4 linked regions of the Homo sapiens genome follow. The protein of the gene in region 3 purifies or fractionates together with the protein of the main gene of each other region. This does not show direct contact. Each region holds a gene or a part of one and is shown on either strand. Other genes may lie near its edges.

Region 1 (4,699 bases), on a different chromosome or scaffold from region 3:
AAGAGAACTCATCAAAAGCATGAGGTCTAGATTGACTTGAAAAGTTCATATTATTTATTGCAGACACTGCCAACTGCTAATCCAATTTCTTGCGTCCCCCAACCCTACTTTTTTAAACTAACAGAACCACAACACTGCTTAGGGAAGCACTACACCAAGCTAAAAACGAAATTTAATTTAGCAGGTTCCCTTGAAGCTTTGGTCCACCATATGATATAGTTCTGGGCAGCGACGGGTAAGCAGAAGTTTATTGAGTAGGACAATTTGATCAAGCCACTGGAATTAGGTTTAGCTACTTGCAACCAAATGCAATCCTGATGAATCAACCTTTGAATGAGATTCTCTACTTAAAAAAAAATAACATGGTGACAGGCAAAACACACACACACACACACACACAGAGAGAGAGAGAGAGGAGAGCGAGAGAGAGAGAGAGAGAGAGAGAGACTACTTTTCCGCTCTATTCAATAATTTCATTTCATCATCAAATTCACTACGCAAAGTATGCTTTTCTCCTCCAAGCACACCTATATCATGCCACTTCTTGTATCTCTCTACTGACTTCCTTTTCCACTTACTTTAGCTTTGAATTTTCAGTCTTATTTCAAAGGCTTTTACTATTCTCATTTTTACCTACTGCTTTGTTGGCTTTGTTCATTGCTTTAGGCCTGGATCCTTGCCAATTCTATTTCTTTTAAACCCTATTTCTAAAATTAATAACAAGTTAAACTGCCACATGCCCCAGTACTGTTGTTTTTTTTTACTATTTCCAGTCACTGGATGCCTTTTCAAATGTTCATTTCTATTTGCCTTTGGCATGACTTTTACCTAACGGACAAGCAAAATCCTACATTATTATTCTCTCTCTCTCTCTCTCCTTCTCTCTCTCTCGCCACATAAGAGAAAACCTAGTGCATTGATTGGTACTTGGCATTAGCAAAGCCATTAATGGGAAGCTTTTAGAAGTAATTAAACCACACATCCTATCAGAAACGGGGTCTAAAAAGACTTCCAGATATCATCTTCATCTGCTTGAAGCCAAAGACAGGATTCACTATAGTTTTACACTTTTCTTAATGCGGGACTCTGACTTAAACTTTGAAATTTTTGGATTGTAACTGTCCTTTCTTATGTTTAATTCAAACTGTTCCAATGTGATTTCCATTAGTTTCTTCTTATTCTTTTTATAGTGGAGTTAGAATTTGAATACTTATTCACTTTTTATTATTATTAATATTTTCCTATGTAGAAAGATAATTCCTCTGTCAGTGACTTAATTGCATTTTCCCCTAATAGTGGTTATAAGAATCCATTTGTACTTTCTCACACAGGAGGCCCTCAGTTCAAGATAGCTATTAACCACCAATAACAAAATTACTATATAATAGTCCATCATTCTTAAGCTTTTTTCCAGCTAAAAATGCATCTCCTTTAGCTGTTCCAGGCATTTAATTTTTATTGTCAACTTTTATTGTCATGCAATTCTCCATGCAGAGTTGCTATTGTTATCAGTAAAATCAATAGTATTTTATTTTAAAATAAAATACATCTAATTAAAAAGTAGATACACATGCTCTTATTTCCATTTTCCATATTTACACGACACTCAGATATAGGTTAGTACCAACAACTCTGATGGGAAGAGGGAGTAAGGGATGATGCAAGGCAAAGAGTTGGAGCCACAAAGCAGTGCTTCAATCGTAGTCTATAAGAGTTGGAAATGGTAAAGAGGCAACTGGAAAAATCTAGAGCAGGTGGCAGCAAACCTCAGTCCATAGGCCAAATCCAGTCTACTTCCTGTTTTGTAGGGCCCAAAAGATAAAAATATGAATGATTTTACATTTTTTACACATTGAAAAAGAATCAAGACTATTTTGTAACTTATGAAAATTCTATAAAATTCAAATTTCATGTTCACAAATAAAGCTTTATTGGAGCACAGCCTCACTCATTTGTTTATGGATTATGTAGGGTTGCTTTTACACTACAACAGCAGAGTTGATTACTTGTGACAGAGATTTAATGGCCCACAAAGCTGGAAATAGACTCTTTCTGGCCCTTTACAAAAGTTTGCTGGCCCCTAATCTAGAGAATTAACTTCAGTAGTTTGGTGGCCTAGTGTTTACATTAAAGAATCTCTCCAATTTAAGAATTATACTTAGGTTGGTTATCTCACATATATCAGGAGTTCTTATTTTCTGAGATAATTCCATAGGAATCCAGAATCGGTCCCAGAAGAGGATGTGGAATTTATTTGTTCTTTAAGATTAGGAAAGAGATCAGCCTAAAGAAAATCATTTAAACAGTGATGGCTGTCATACAGGGGAGATGGACTCTAGAAACATAGAACGCTGGTGAGTGATCAAGAAACCCCCAAATCCTTTGGGGGGTATAGAGGCATTTAATAAATTTTAGTAGTTTTATTGTGCATGTATTTGAAAAACATCTAACATGTTTTCTATAAGTTATTTCATTATTTGAAACCTTAACTTATTAATATTTAACTGAAGTGAAAGATATTGGAGCTGTCATAATCTTCTTCAATATAGGAAGCCTCAATAGAAGATTGATTTCTTATATGACACAATTTTGAAAGATGCCAGAAATAACTGACTCCTTTTACACTTAAGTGACAGCTACTCTAAGCCTCCCCTAGTTTCCCATTGTAACCAGTGTCAAAGGAAAGCAGCATTTTGAAGGAATTATATTTCAGCACTAAACCAGGTGAGCACGTGTGCTAGTGCGTGCACACACACACACACACACACACACACACAGTCTTTTTTTGATGAACAATGGGCTTAGGTTTCCTTTGGTCCAAGTACCCCATGGAAAGATTTTAAAAGGCCTAATGCATTAAAGTGATCTAAACTGTCTTGCAAATGTTGCCACTGTTTTTTTTTTAATTTTTAATTTTTGTGGGTACATAGTACGTGTATATTTTTATGGGGTACATGAGATGTTTTGATGCAGGTATGCAATGTATAATAATCACATCATAGAAGATGGAGTATCCATCCTTTCAGGCATTTATCCTCTGTGTTACGAATAATCCAATTATATATACTCATACTTATTGTAAAACATACAATTAAATTATTATTGACTATAGTCACCCTGCTGTGCTATCAAATACTAGGCCTTATTAATTCATTCTAACTATTTTTGTACCCATCAAATTTTTCTTTTTATAATTATATACAGGCAATAGTTACTGTGTGTATGAAGTGATATACTGGTACTAATCAACCTATTAAATTGTTAAATGACTTTCCCATCAATCCCCTCTTCCTGCCACCCATTCCCATCACCTCCTTCTATTTACATAGGCATATGAATGTCTCAACTTAATCAGTTACAATGGGAATGTTAATTTATTATAACAGATGTTAATGTGTGCGTTGAAGGAGGAATTCTATTTTTAAAAAGCGCTTGTAGGGTAGGGGAAATGTTAAAACCTCAGTTTCTGGCAGGAACATTCAGAAATATAGGCAAGAGTTTCTTTAGAATCAAAATCTGCTATTCTGCAAAAACAATGGGTCCAAGAAAACTGGAAATGCCAACTAACACAAATTCATTTTTTATTTATATAAAGAGAAACACGATCATGGATAGAATTCAGGAAATTTCATTAATATTATTCTTTGGGAGCAATAGTAATCAAGGCAGGTTTCATCAAGTTTGGTTACCTCCGTAATACAGGATGTGACGTGACAAGACAATCTACTTCTTGCTTCTATTTGAGTATAACATAGAAAGAACTCAAAGGGGGTGGAGTGGATCAGAAACAAATGAAACCTCTTGCTTCTTGGCTTTATCTAATGACTCTTTTTGGCCTTTTTTCTCCTGAAATCAAGACTCTAAATTTGAATGCACTTACTAAGTCAATCACAAAATATTTTTTAAACTTCCAATATATTATATAATAAAATGTTTAGTACAGAATGCGTTTGATGGGTATGCTGATTTTAAGGGACGCAATCATTTTCTACAAAAGTTTAGCTACTTATAGGTTACAAATCTATGAGGTCATTATAGATTTGTAATCTATAGATCATTTCAAATGGAATAAAATATCAAATAATTGGATGATAACTAGAATTAGAATTCTTGGAATAGATGGTTTGTGCCTGTATTATAATGACATGTGCCTTTTTTTAAATGCAGTTTATGAAATAAGATTAAAATGGACCTATATTTACCATTAGAGGGGAAATTTTTTTAAGTCATTATCCTTAGGTTAAGCTTTAGAAATTTTATTGTTAAAGCCTAAATATGAATTTAGGAATACCCTAAGAAAAGCATGATTTCCTTGTTTCTTTTCCCTTTCAAAATGAAACACAGAAGACTGTTTTTAATCAGAGATGGAGGGGTGGTTTCTGAAGGTCAGGAGCAAGGATTCCTGTGTATGAGCCACTTGCCCAACAGTGTGGTCTATTTCTAGTTCCTAGATGGGTATACCATAGGAGCAGCTGAAAGAGAGTTGGGATAGGTTCAAAGAAAGAAGCCTCTAGCATCTTGGTTTTATGTAATGACTCTCCTTGGCCTGAAGATTAAAAACTCCCAGAAGAATATGGCTTTTAATTAGTATTAGGAACTATATATTGAAAGCTAAGTAGCCGCATATTAACAGGGGTGATAATATCAACAAGCAAGGACTGACTTTGAAAAACGGAGCTACTTCCTTTGAGAAAAGAAG
Region 2 (4,699 bases), on a different chromosome or scaffold from region 3:
ACTCATAGCACAAAACATTTTGTATTAAAAATGAGAATATTTTAGAAAAAAAGATCATAAATCCAAAAAGTCTCAAAAAAGTTTATTGAGAACCGCTTACGTGCTTGGTTTTGCAGAAAGTATAAAAGCTAAAAGACAAGAAGCATAAAAAAGATAAAACTTAATTCTTCTTTCTGAAAGTGTGCAGCCTACTTAGTGTGGTTTTAAGGCTAACAATTTCCAATTACTTAGTATGAATTAGGTGTCGTCTAATGAGCTGTTCACATGTATTAATTCATTAATCCTAACCATAATCCCTGTGGTAGGTACCATTTTGCAGGGGAAAAGTAAGCCATAGAGCATTTACTTCAGGTTATAAAACTAGTCAATGTAACCCAGGAAATCTGGTTTTAAAGCCTGTTTCTTAATCACAATGATAAAGATTCACAAAAATCATTATACTAACTATCAAAATAAGGCAATATATTTCAAGGGCCAAGTAAGAGGTATAGAAAATAAATGCAATGGTGTCTGGAGGACAAAGAAATTACTGTAAAAAGCAATAGTTAAAGAAGGTTTTATGAAAGATGCAAGAATTAAATTAGTCCTTAAAGATAGGTTAGATGGAGAAAGAAATAAAGAGTTGAACAAAAGGCATAAGTGAAAACTATATGAACCAGGAATACAGGTGTGATAAAGCAAATTTCTTAAACATCTAAGTAAATATTACCAACTAGATGAATAAAACTGATAAATACTTAATTCCTTTAACTCATCTTACAACTACTGTATGTTTTACTGTAAGTTCTCTTTACAGGATAAAACAAATATGCAATAAAATATATTTCCAATTAGATTTAAAAAAAGGTGAATGGATTATATTTACAACCTAATCCCACTTGGGGCCCAAACAAGAATATTCTGTTTATTATATAATAAACCAGGTCAAGAAACATTAATCAAGGTCCAAGTATACATAAAGAGCTATACAGACCTTAAGGAAAGAGATAGAACTAGTATTTCTAGGTAAAATTTACTGGGTAATTACTTTGTGTTACATCCTGTTTTCAGTGTTTTATGTGAATGATCTCATTAATCCTCACAAAAACCTTCTAAATTAGATAATATTATTCAAATTTTATAGAAGCAGAAATTGGCACACAAAGAGGTTATATTACTTGCCAAAGGTCAATTAATGAGCAGAAGCAGAGCCATAATTGCAACCCAAGTAGGCATACTCTGAGCCTATATCTATGTCTGTAAAGAAGACACCAGATGACCCTAAAAGAAAAACACAAAGCTCAGCTATCCTTCCATTTGCTTACCTTGAAGACCTGCATATTTAAGGGCTGACCAGTTTGGTATGTCATAGCACCCTCCACCATCTTCCTTTTCTTCTGATTCACATCGGTAAAGGATCTGATTTAGCTCAGCCAAAGTTAATCTGGAGGCAAGACTAAGAATTGGAAAATAAAGATAACCATATATTGAAGTTTCGCTTGTTGTCAATAGAAACAAAAGAAGAAAATCTGAATTACAATCATAAAATGTCTTAGCAGTGTATGTTTTAGGAACTCAGCATTCAAATAAACATTATACTCATACATTTTAAGTAATTATTAAAGGACAAATTGTGAAAAAAAATTCAATTAGAAGCGACATTACTCCCAAACCAAGCAAATAATCAAGTACCAAATTGTATTGATTAGAAGTATGCTGGGAAAATATTTTGGCTTCTATATCCTTTATCTTATAAATCTGTTTTTTTAACCTTTCTAGTTTGGACTTAGTGTTTTCCTTCCTTCCTTCATTTATTTATGTGTTCTCATCTGATTTCTCTCCTTTATATTCCCCTAAGTGAGACATCAAGAACTTTTTATGCTAGTTATTGTATACTAAAAATACTTATCAGAGGATGACTAAAGGAATAAAAAGTCAAAGTTAATTGCCTAGGAAATCACATGCTCTCTACCTTCATATTTCTCTCCAAGTCCCTTCCTTTCTCTTCTCTAAGGTTGCACTGCCCCTCAGCTTGTTTATTCAAGAAACCAGGATTTTTCTCAGATTAAGATGCCTCCTGATAACTGTCAGAGGGAAGACTATCATGGCCTTGATTTCCCTTTGTTTGGTTAGCAGTAAGACTGTATAACTGACCACACCTGAATACAGCTGAAACTGTATTTTCTTGTGCTTCTATAATAGATGCTCAGGTAATTTCATTTTACATGACTGCTATTTTATGTGAACACATATCCTCTTGAATGTGTATCTTTCTTTCCCATTTAGTTCTGGCTCAATTTAGAAAATCATTGTCATCTGTGCTTTGTTCTCTCCATATCAGCCTCCCTCCCCAGAGCTAGTTTGTGAGTCAAGCCTGAGTCAAATCACTCAGAAGTCTCAGTATCAACTCCATTCTAGGACAATATTTTTCAATAGCCAGTGGACTCCTTGCCTAAAAATTACCTGGGGATCTTATAAAACTGCAAATTTCTTGGCCTTGCTCCAAAATAATCTGAGCAGGTCTGAGGAGGAACATGCATTTTACAAGCAGTCCATCCAAACACAAAGCTGCTTCATCACAGATTTTTTGGTTAAGAATGCAACTACTTTATTAAGAATAGTTTGAATTAGGAGTTAATATCCTTAACAATAAAAAGTCTTACAAAACAACAAAGAAAGCCGAACACAATAGCAAAATGGGGTAATACATAAAACAACACTTCAACAAATAAATACAAATGGCCAATGAACAAAATAATTTAGCTTAATATTTAAATTACATGAGATGTTATTTTTAACTATTTTATATTTACCAGTTTGATTAGTAACAGCTAACACTTATCAATCACTATGTGTCAAAAACTATTGTGTTTTACTCAAGTAATCTGTAAGAAAGGTGCTATAATTATGTCTATTATAAATTCTCAAAGATCTCTTTTTTTTTTTCTAGAGACAGGGTCTTGCTCTGTTGCCCAGGCTGGAGAGCAGTGGCACAATCATGGCTCATTGCAGCCTAGACCTCCTGGGCTCAACTGATGCTGATGCTGTTACCTCAGCTTCCTGAACAGCTGTGACCACAGGTGCATGCCACAACTTCCAGCTAATTTTTTTAAAACGTTTTGTAGAGATAGGGTCTCACTATGTTGCCCAGGCTGGTCTTGGACTCCTGGGCTCAAGCAATCCTCCCACCTTGGCCTACCAAAGTGCTGAGATTATAGGAGTGAGCCACTGCACTCAGCCAGGTCTTACTTCTTATAGCTAATAAGAGTCTGCAATGGAATTCAAATCCAGTTAGTCTGGTTCTATACTCCATGCCCTTAAACACTACGTTATAATAATATATACTCAGTATTGCTAATGATGGAAACTCTTGGATAGAGCTGAAAGTATTAATTATTATAATCTTTCTGGAGAAAATTTGGCAGTATGTATTAACAGCCTCAAATATATGGATATAGTCTAACCCAATGGTCCTTTTTGGCACCAGGGACTGGTTTCACAGAAGACATTTTTTCACAGACTGGGGGTGAGGGGCGTGGTTTTGGGATGATTCAAGTGCATTACATTTATTGTGTACTTTATTTCTACTATTATTACATTGTAATATATACTGAAATAATTATACAACTCACCATAATGTGGAATCAGTGGGACCCCTAAGCTTGTTTTCCTGCAACTAGACAGTCCCATATGGGGGTGATGGCAAACAGTGGCAGATCATCAGGCATTAGATTCTCATAGGCAGCATGCAATCTAAATCCCTCGCAGGGACAGTTCACAATAGGGTTCACGTCCCTATGAGAATCTAATGCAGCCACTGATCTGACAGGAGGCAGAGTTCAGGTGGTAATGCGAGTGATGGGGTGCAGCTGTAAATACAGATAAAGCTCACCTGCCACTCACCTCCTGCTGTGCGGCCTGGTTCCTAACAGGCCATGGACCAGTACCAGTCTGTGGCCCAGAGGTTGGGGACCCCTCGTCTAACCCAAAACTTCCATTTCTGAAAATATTTATACTAGTACTAATGATGGCAAACTATGAGCATTTACTATGTGCCAGGCATTGTATTAAGTGTTTTATAAGTGTTATCCTATTTAATTCTTACAAAATTTTCCAGATGGGAGACTGAGATGATGAAAGTTCTAAACAATAGATCCAAGATCATACTGACAGTAATGAAGCTAAAGTTAAACCTAGGTCTAAACCTCAAAACCTATATTCTTCTGTAGTATGCAGAAACATCTAGAAAGGGAATAACTAAGGATTCATGTAAAGATGAATGTACAAAGACATAAATAATAGGGAACAATTAGAAGCAATCTAGATGTCCAAAAATGGAAATTGTTTAAATAAATTATGGTAAAGCCATAAAGTAGAATAATATGTTGACATTTTTAAAAAATGATGTGGTAAAGGGTATGAGGTATGCAACTTAGTCTCAAATACTTCAGAGAAATTGTGTGTGTGTGTATACAGAGATGCATGCATGTGTTATGTATGCATGTAGGCATGTGTGTATCTATATCTATAGAGAGAATACACATGCAGGTACACACACAAATTATAAAACAATAGGGTAAAATGTTAACAACAGGTGATGCTGACACTGCTGGTCCTTGGACCGTACTTTGAGTAGCAAGGATATAGAGGACCCTTAAAACTGCTTAATTCAGTCTAGTGGTAACTTACTTATTAAGGTGGCAAATCTCTACCAAACAAG
Region 3 (2,216 bases):
TGTTGGGAACTGGAGTAAAGGTGACTCTTGTTATGTTTTAGCAAAGAGACTGGCAGCATTTTGCCCCTTCCATAGGGATTTGTGGAACTTTGAACTTGAGAGAGATGATTTAGGTTAACTAGCGGAAGAAATTTCTAAGCAGCAAAGTGTTCAACAGGTGACTTGGGTGCTTTTAAAGGCATTCCCTTATAAATAAGGGAAGCAAAGCATAAAAGTTTGGAAATTTGCAGCCTGACTATGCAATAGAAAAGAAAAACCCATTTTCTGGGGAGAAATTCAAGCCAGCTGCAGAAATTTGCATAAGTAGCAAGGAGCCTAATGTTAATCCCCAACACCATGGGGAAAATGTCTCCAGGCCATGTCAGGGCAGCCCCTGACATGTGTGTGCAGCCTAGGGACTTGGTGTCTTGTGTCCCAGCCACTCCAGCCATGGCTGAAAGGGGCCAACATACAGCTCGGGCTGTGGCTTCAGAGTGGAAGCCCCAAGCCTTGGCAGCTTCTATGTGCTGTTAAGCCTGCAGGTGCACAGAAGTCAAGAATTGAGATTTGGAAACCTCCGCCTAGTTTTCAGAAGATGTATGGAAATGCCTCAATGCCCAGGCAAACGTTTGCTGCAGGGGAGAGGCCCTCTCAGCGGCAGGGGAGAGAACCTCTGCTAGGGCAGTGCAGAAGGGAAATGTGGTGTGGGAGCCCCCACACAGAGTCCCTACTGGGGCACTGCCTAGTGGAGCTGTGAGAAGAGGGCCACCGTCCTCCAGACCCCAGAATGGTAGATCCACCAACAGCTTGCACCGTGCACCTGGAAAAGCCGCAGGCACTGAACAACAGCCGTGAAAGCAGCCAGGAGGGAGGCTGTACCCTACAAAGCCACAGGGGCAGAGCTGCCCAAGACCATGGGAACCCACTTCTTGCATCAGTATGACCTGGATGTGAGACCTGGAGTCAAAGGAGATTATTCTGGAACTTTAAAATTTGACAGCCCTGCTGGATTTCGGACTTGCATGGGCCCTGTAACCCCTTTATTTTGGCCAATTTCTCCCATTTGGAACAGCCGTCTTTAATCAATACCTGTACCCCTGTTGGTATCTAGGAAGTAACTAGCTTGCTTTTGATTTTACAGGCTCATAGGTGGAAGGGACTTGCCTTGTCTCAGATGAGACTTTGGACTGTGGATTTTTGCGTTAATGCTGAAAAGAGTTAAGACTTTGGGGGACTGTTAGGAAGGCATGATTGGTTTTGAATAGTGAGGACATGAGATTTGGAGGGGCCAGGGGTAGAATGATATGGTTTGGCTATGTCCCCACCCAAATCTCAACTTGAAATTGTATCTACCAGAATTCCCACGTGTTGTGGGAGAGACCCAAGGGGAGGTAATTGAATCATGGGGGCCAGTCTTTCCCATGCTATTCTTGTGATAGTGAATAAGTTTCACAAGATCTGATGGCTTATCAGGGGTTTCCACTTTTGCTTCTTCCTCATTTTCTCTTGCTGCCATGTAAGAAGTGCCTTTCACCTCCCGCCATGATTCTGAGGCCTCCCCAGCCATGTGGAACTGTAAGTCCAAGTAAACCTCTTTTTCTTCCCAGTCTCGGGTACGTCTTTATCAGCAGCATTAATACAGACTAATACAGATGCTTGAAGCAAGCCCTTGTCCAATAAGGTATTTAATAGCACTTAGGGACTATTAGATGTCCCATTTCTCTTCTCTTTCATTTCTCTTATCTCTTCTCACCCCAGTGTAACGAATCGCTACAGGTTTTTACCAAAATGCTGCAGCAGTAGTTGGAAATGAGTTATTTTGCATTACTAAAGTGTTCAATCACATTATCACGGGTCACATTTGTATATAACCAGGAGATGGCCAAATAACATCTACTGCAGTGATTTTGCAAATTCAGCATAGTCAATGTATCCATCATTGTTCTTGTCATCATCTCTCAAAACACCATCTATTATGTTAATCAGTTCATCTTCACTCATTAGTGGTGCCTGTTCACTCCCTTCCTACAAAATACAAATTAGACAATGATGAGTTGCGCATTTTACCGGAAGAAGTGCTTAACTAACGTCCAAAATATCCATGTTCTTTCATGGCACTGTTTATTAAAAAAAAAAAAAAAAAAAAGGAAAAACAAAACAACAAAATATCCACGCTCATATGTGTCCAAAAACTTTCAATGGAGTATGGGGCTACTTCTAGGAATCTAGATATATAG
Region 4 (3,920 bases), on a different chromosome or scaffold from region 3:
AGTGCGAGAGGTGGTGTGAAAAGGCTTGAATTTGAGCCCCTGCTCTCTAACGAGAGGGCACAGCTCTAGCAGGCTGAGCCACAGCCTCCTCTTCTGAAAAATGGGTACCTGGTGTGTTGGTTGCTGCAGCTCATATGGCTTCTAGTGAGATCACAGATATGAACATGCTGAACACCAGAGGCATTCACACTTTATTTTTTAAAGTTGATGGAACTTCCAGGGGTGGTGGACCTTCTTGAGTCTCGGCTTCTAAGGCATTCTGCTCCAGCCTAGCCATTGCCTGGGTCAATTTCTCCTCCCTCCTGTAAGGGCATCTAAGAATGGGGAGGCTGTGGGTCACACTGGGCACATCCCGGGGTCCTGGGAAGCAGGTCCTGACTCCCTGCTCTATTGCCTGCAGCGATCGGCTGGCCCTTCTCCAGGTCAGGAGGATTCTGCAGCAGCTGGGCCTGGACAGCACGTGTGAGGACAGCATCGTGGTGAAGGAGGTGTGCGGAGCCGTGTCCCGGCGGGCGGCCCAGCTCTGCGGTGCTGGCCTGGCCGCTATAGTGGAAAAAAGGAGAGAAGACCAGGGGCTAGAGCACCTGAGGATCACTGTGGGTGTGGACGGCACCCTGTACAAGCTGCACCCTCAGTGAGTGCCCACAAGAGGCGTGGCGGGTGGGGCTGGGGAGGGCTGGCGGCCAAGTGTGGACTTGGCATAGCCTCCTGAACTGCGGCATGGGAAGATGCATCCCCGTCCTTTTATGGGAAAGGAGTGCTGTGTGGTCAAGTCACCTATTCAATCTGACAGACAAGGTGTGAGCCCTGGTGCCTCTGCTACCTGGTAATACGATGTGGGAATGTTAGCCGGCCTCTCTAAACCCCAGGTTCCTCATCCACAAAAGGCCAGCACTAATAATCCCTACCACATAGGGCTAAATGTGTGAGGTTGAAATGAGTTAGCACATGTAAAGTGCTTCACACGGGGCTCAAGAAATGTAAGTTGGCTGAGTGCAGTGGCTCATGCCTGTAATGGCAGACGGGAGGATCACTTGAGCCCAGGAGTTTGAGACCAGCCTGGGCAACACAGGGAGACTCCATTTCCACAAACATAAATAAATAAAATACAAAATGAACAAAAATTACAAATATTAGCTGGGCGTGATAGTGCATACCTGTGGTCCCAGCTACATGGGAGGCTGAGCTGGGGGGCTTGAGCCTGGGAACTCGAGGCTGCAGTGGGCTGTGATTGCACAACTGCAGTCTACACCCTGGGCAACAGAGTGAGACCATGTCTAAAAAAAAAAAAAAATTAGAAGAAGCTGTTTAGAGCCTTGAAAAGCAAACCAAAGGGAAGAAGCTAAAGAAATTAGATTATGATCATTTATAAATGTTCTGATTCTACATGGAAGGGCTGATGATGTTTCTTTCTCTTTTTCATAGCTTTTCTAGAATATTGCAGGAAACTGTGAAGGAACTAGCCCCTCGATGTGATGTGACATTCATGCTGTCAGAAGATGGCAGTGGAAAAGGGGCAGCACTGATCACTGCTGTGGCCAAGAGGTTACAGCAGGCACAGAAGGAGAACTAGGAACCCCTGGGATTGGACCTGATGCATCTTGGATACTGAACAGCTTTTCCTCTGGCAGATCAGTTGGTCAGAGACCAATGGGCACCCTCCTGGCTGACCTCACCTTCTGGATGGCCGAAAGAGAACCCCAGGTTCTCGGGTACTCTTAGTATCTTGTACTGGATTTGCAGTGACATTACATGACATCTCTATTTGGTATATTTGGGCCAAAATGGGCCAACTTATGAAATCAAAGTGTCTGTCCTGAGAGATCCCCTTTCAACACATTGTTCAGGTGAGGCTTGAGCTGTCAATTCTCTATGGCTTTCAGTCTTGTGGCTGCGGGACTTGGAAATATATAGAATCTGCCCATGTGGCTGGCAGGCTGTTTCCCCATTGGGATGCTTAAGCCATCTCTTATAGGGGATTGGACCCTGTACTTGTGGATGAACATTGGAGAGCAAGAGGAACTCACGTTATGAACTAGGGGGATCTCATCTAACTTGTCCTTAACTTGCCATGTTGACTTCAAACCTATTAAGAGAACAAAGACTTTGAAGTATCCAGCCCCAGGGTGCAGAGAGGTTGATTGCCAGGGAGCACTGCAGGAATCATTGCATGCTTAAAGCGAGTTATGTCAGCACCCTGTAGGATTTTGTTCCTTATTAAGTGTGTGCCATGTGGTGGGGTGCTGTCTGGGGCATCTGTTTTTCATTTTGCCTGTGGTTTGTGTTGCAGGTGTTGATAGTTGTTTTAAGGATTGTTAGGTATAGGAAATCCAGTAAATTAATAAAAAAATTTTGATTTTCCAATAAACTTTGCATGAAGTGGTGATATTTCTTCTGGGAGGCTCACTTGGTAATACCATGCTTTGTTGATGGAATAAGGGATGCAGAGTCAGAAGGAGCTTGAGCATTTTTCTCGAGTCCAAACTTCCTACCAACAGGGGTAATATATGGAATATCTTCTACAATATCCTTAACAGATTATCCAGATGTCTTTAGAATACTTCCAGTAACTGAGCATTTCCCACATGATCCTACAGCTCTTGCTTTTGAACGGCTGGAGTGGACTGGAAGTCCTTCTGACTTCTGAGCTCGGTTCCTCCCATACACCCCACTGATCTCCATTCTACCCTGCAGAACTATGTGTAATAGGCCTGTCCCTGACCATTTCTCCAGTGGACTTCCTCTCTCTCTCCTCTCTTCCCCACTTTACCTGAACTGCCTGTGCCTTTCTGTTCTGCCACATAGTTATCTGTATGAGTTTCACATCTGGCCAGATAGATTGTAAACTCTTTGTCAAACACATTCTTGTATTGCTCTAGTGAACCTAGCACTGTGCCATTCCTATCAAATACTTACTTGTGGGAGGCATGATTGAAGAAATAGAACTTTTCAAGAAATTTTCTTCAGATAAAGTATAGACTGGGTATGGTGGCTCACACCTGTAATCTCAGCACTTTGGGAGGCCAAGTCTGGAAGATTGCTTGAGGCCAGGAGTTCAAGATCAGCTTGGGCAACATATCAAGACCCCCATCTGTACAGAAAAATTTTTAAAATTAGTTGAATGTGGTGGTGCACACCTGCAGTCCCAGCCACTCAGGAGGCTGAGGTGCGGGGTATCTCTCGAGTCTAGGTTTGAGGTTACAATGAGCTATGACTGCACCACTGCACTGCAGCCTGGGCAACGGAAAGAGACCCTGCTTCTTAAAAAAAAAAAGAGAGAGAGAAAGAGAAAGAAATGAAAGAAAGAAAGAAAGAAAAAGAAAGAAAGAGAAAGAAAGAAAAGGAAGGAAGGAAGGAAAGAGACAACTATTGTCATGGGAAACAAACTGAAAAGAATAATCCACAGTGATTTTATTTGTATTTATGTGCTTAATTACATACTTAAGTATGACAACTCCACAGAGTGCTCTTGCTGTCTCTTCAAAAGATTATGGCTTTGGTCAGGCGTGGTGGCTCATGCCTGTAATCCTAGCACTTTGGGTGGCTGAAGCAGGCAGATCACTTGAGTTCAGGAGTTTGAGACCAGCCTGGCCAGCATGGTGAAACCCCGTCTCTACTAAACATACAAAAAAAAAAAAAAATAGCCGGGCGTGGTGGTGTATCCTTGTGATCCCAGCTACTTGGGAGGCTGAGTCAGGAGAATCACTTGAACCTGGGGGGTGGAGGTTGCAGTGAGCCGAGATTGAGCAACTGCACTCCAGTCTGGGTGACAGAGCGAGACTCTGTCTCAAAAAAAAAAAAAGTTTTTGGATTCCAGCTCTAAGCGTCACCATTTGCTGAAGCGGGATGTCCAGATGGAGTGAAGGGGGCTGAGTCTAAAGACGGAGAGAGAGAGAGGCCAGCTAGGGCTGGGGATAATG

What was found.
Region 1: the proteins of MCFD2 (region 3) and KLHL13 purify together in Homo sapiens (affinity purification with mass spectrometry; one large-scale study listed by BioGRID and IntAct). This does not show direct contact.
Region 2: the proteins of MCFD2 (region 3) and AGL fractionate together in Homo sapiens (co-fractionation; one large-scale study listed by BioGRID). This does not show direct contact.
Region 4: the proteins of MCFD2 (region 3) and HKDC1 purify together in Homo sapiens (affinity purification with mass spectrometry; one large-scale study listed by BioGRID and IntAct). This does not show direct contact.

The regions. Positions count from the first base shown.
Region 1 is NC_000023.11:117,902,759-117,907,457, forward strand, and holds part of KLHL13 (kelch-like protein 13), read right to left. Parts: intron 1-4,699. UniProt on the Homo sapiens protein: Substrate-specific adapter of a BCR (BTB-CUL3-RBX1) E3 ubiquitin-protein ligase complex required for mitotic progression and cytokinesis.
Region 2 is NC_000001.11:99,884,714-99,889,412, reverse strand, and holds part of AGL (glycogen debranching enzyme), read right to left. Parts: intron 1,436-4,699; coding exon 1,305-1,435; intron 1-1,304. UniProt on the Homo sapiens protein: Multifunctional enzyme acting as 1,4-alpha-D-glucan:1,4-alpha-D-glucan 4-alpha-D-glycosyltransferase and amylo-1,6-glucosidase in glycogen degradation.
Region 3 is NC_000002.12:46,903,591-46,905,806, forward strand, and holds part of MCFD2 (multiple coagulation factor deficiency protein 2 isoform A precursor), read right to left. Parts: intron 2,005-2,216; coding exon 1,873-2,004; 3' UTR 1-1,872. UniProt on the Homo sapiens protein: The MCFD2-LMAN1 complex forms a specific cargo receptor for the ER-to-Golgi transport of selected proteins. Plays a role in the secretion of coagulation factors.
Region 4 is NC_000010.11:69,265,185-69,269,104, forward strand, and holds the end of HKDC1 (hexokinase HKDC1), read left to right. Parts: intron 1-400; coding exon 401-634; intron 635-1,425; coding exon 1,426-1,573; 3' UTR 1,574-2,368; downstream 2,369-3,920. UniProt on the Homo sapiens protein: Catalyzes the phosphorylation of hexose to hexose 6-phosphate, although at very low level compared to other hexokinases. Has low glucose phosphorylating activity compared to other hexokinases. Involved in glucose homeostasis and hepatic lipid accumulation.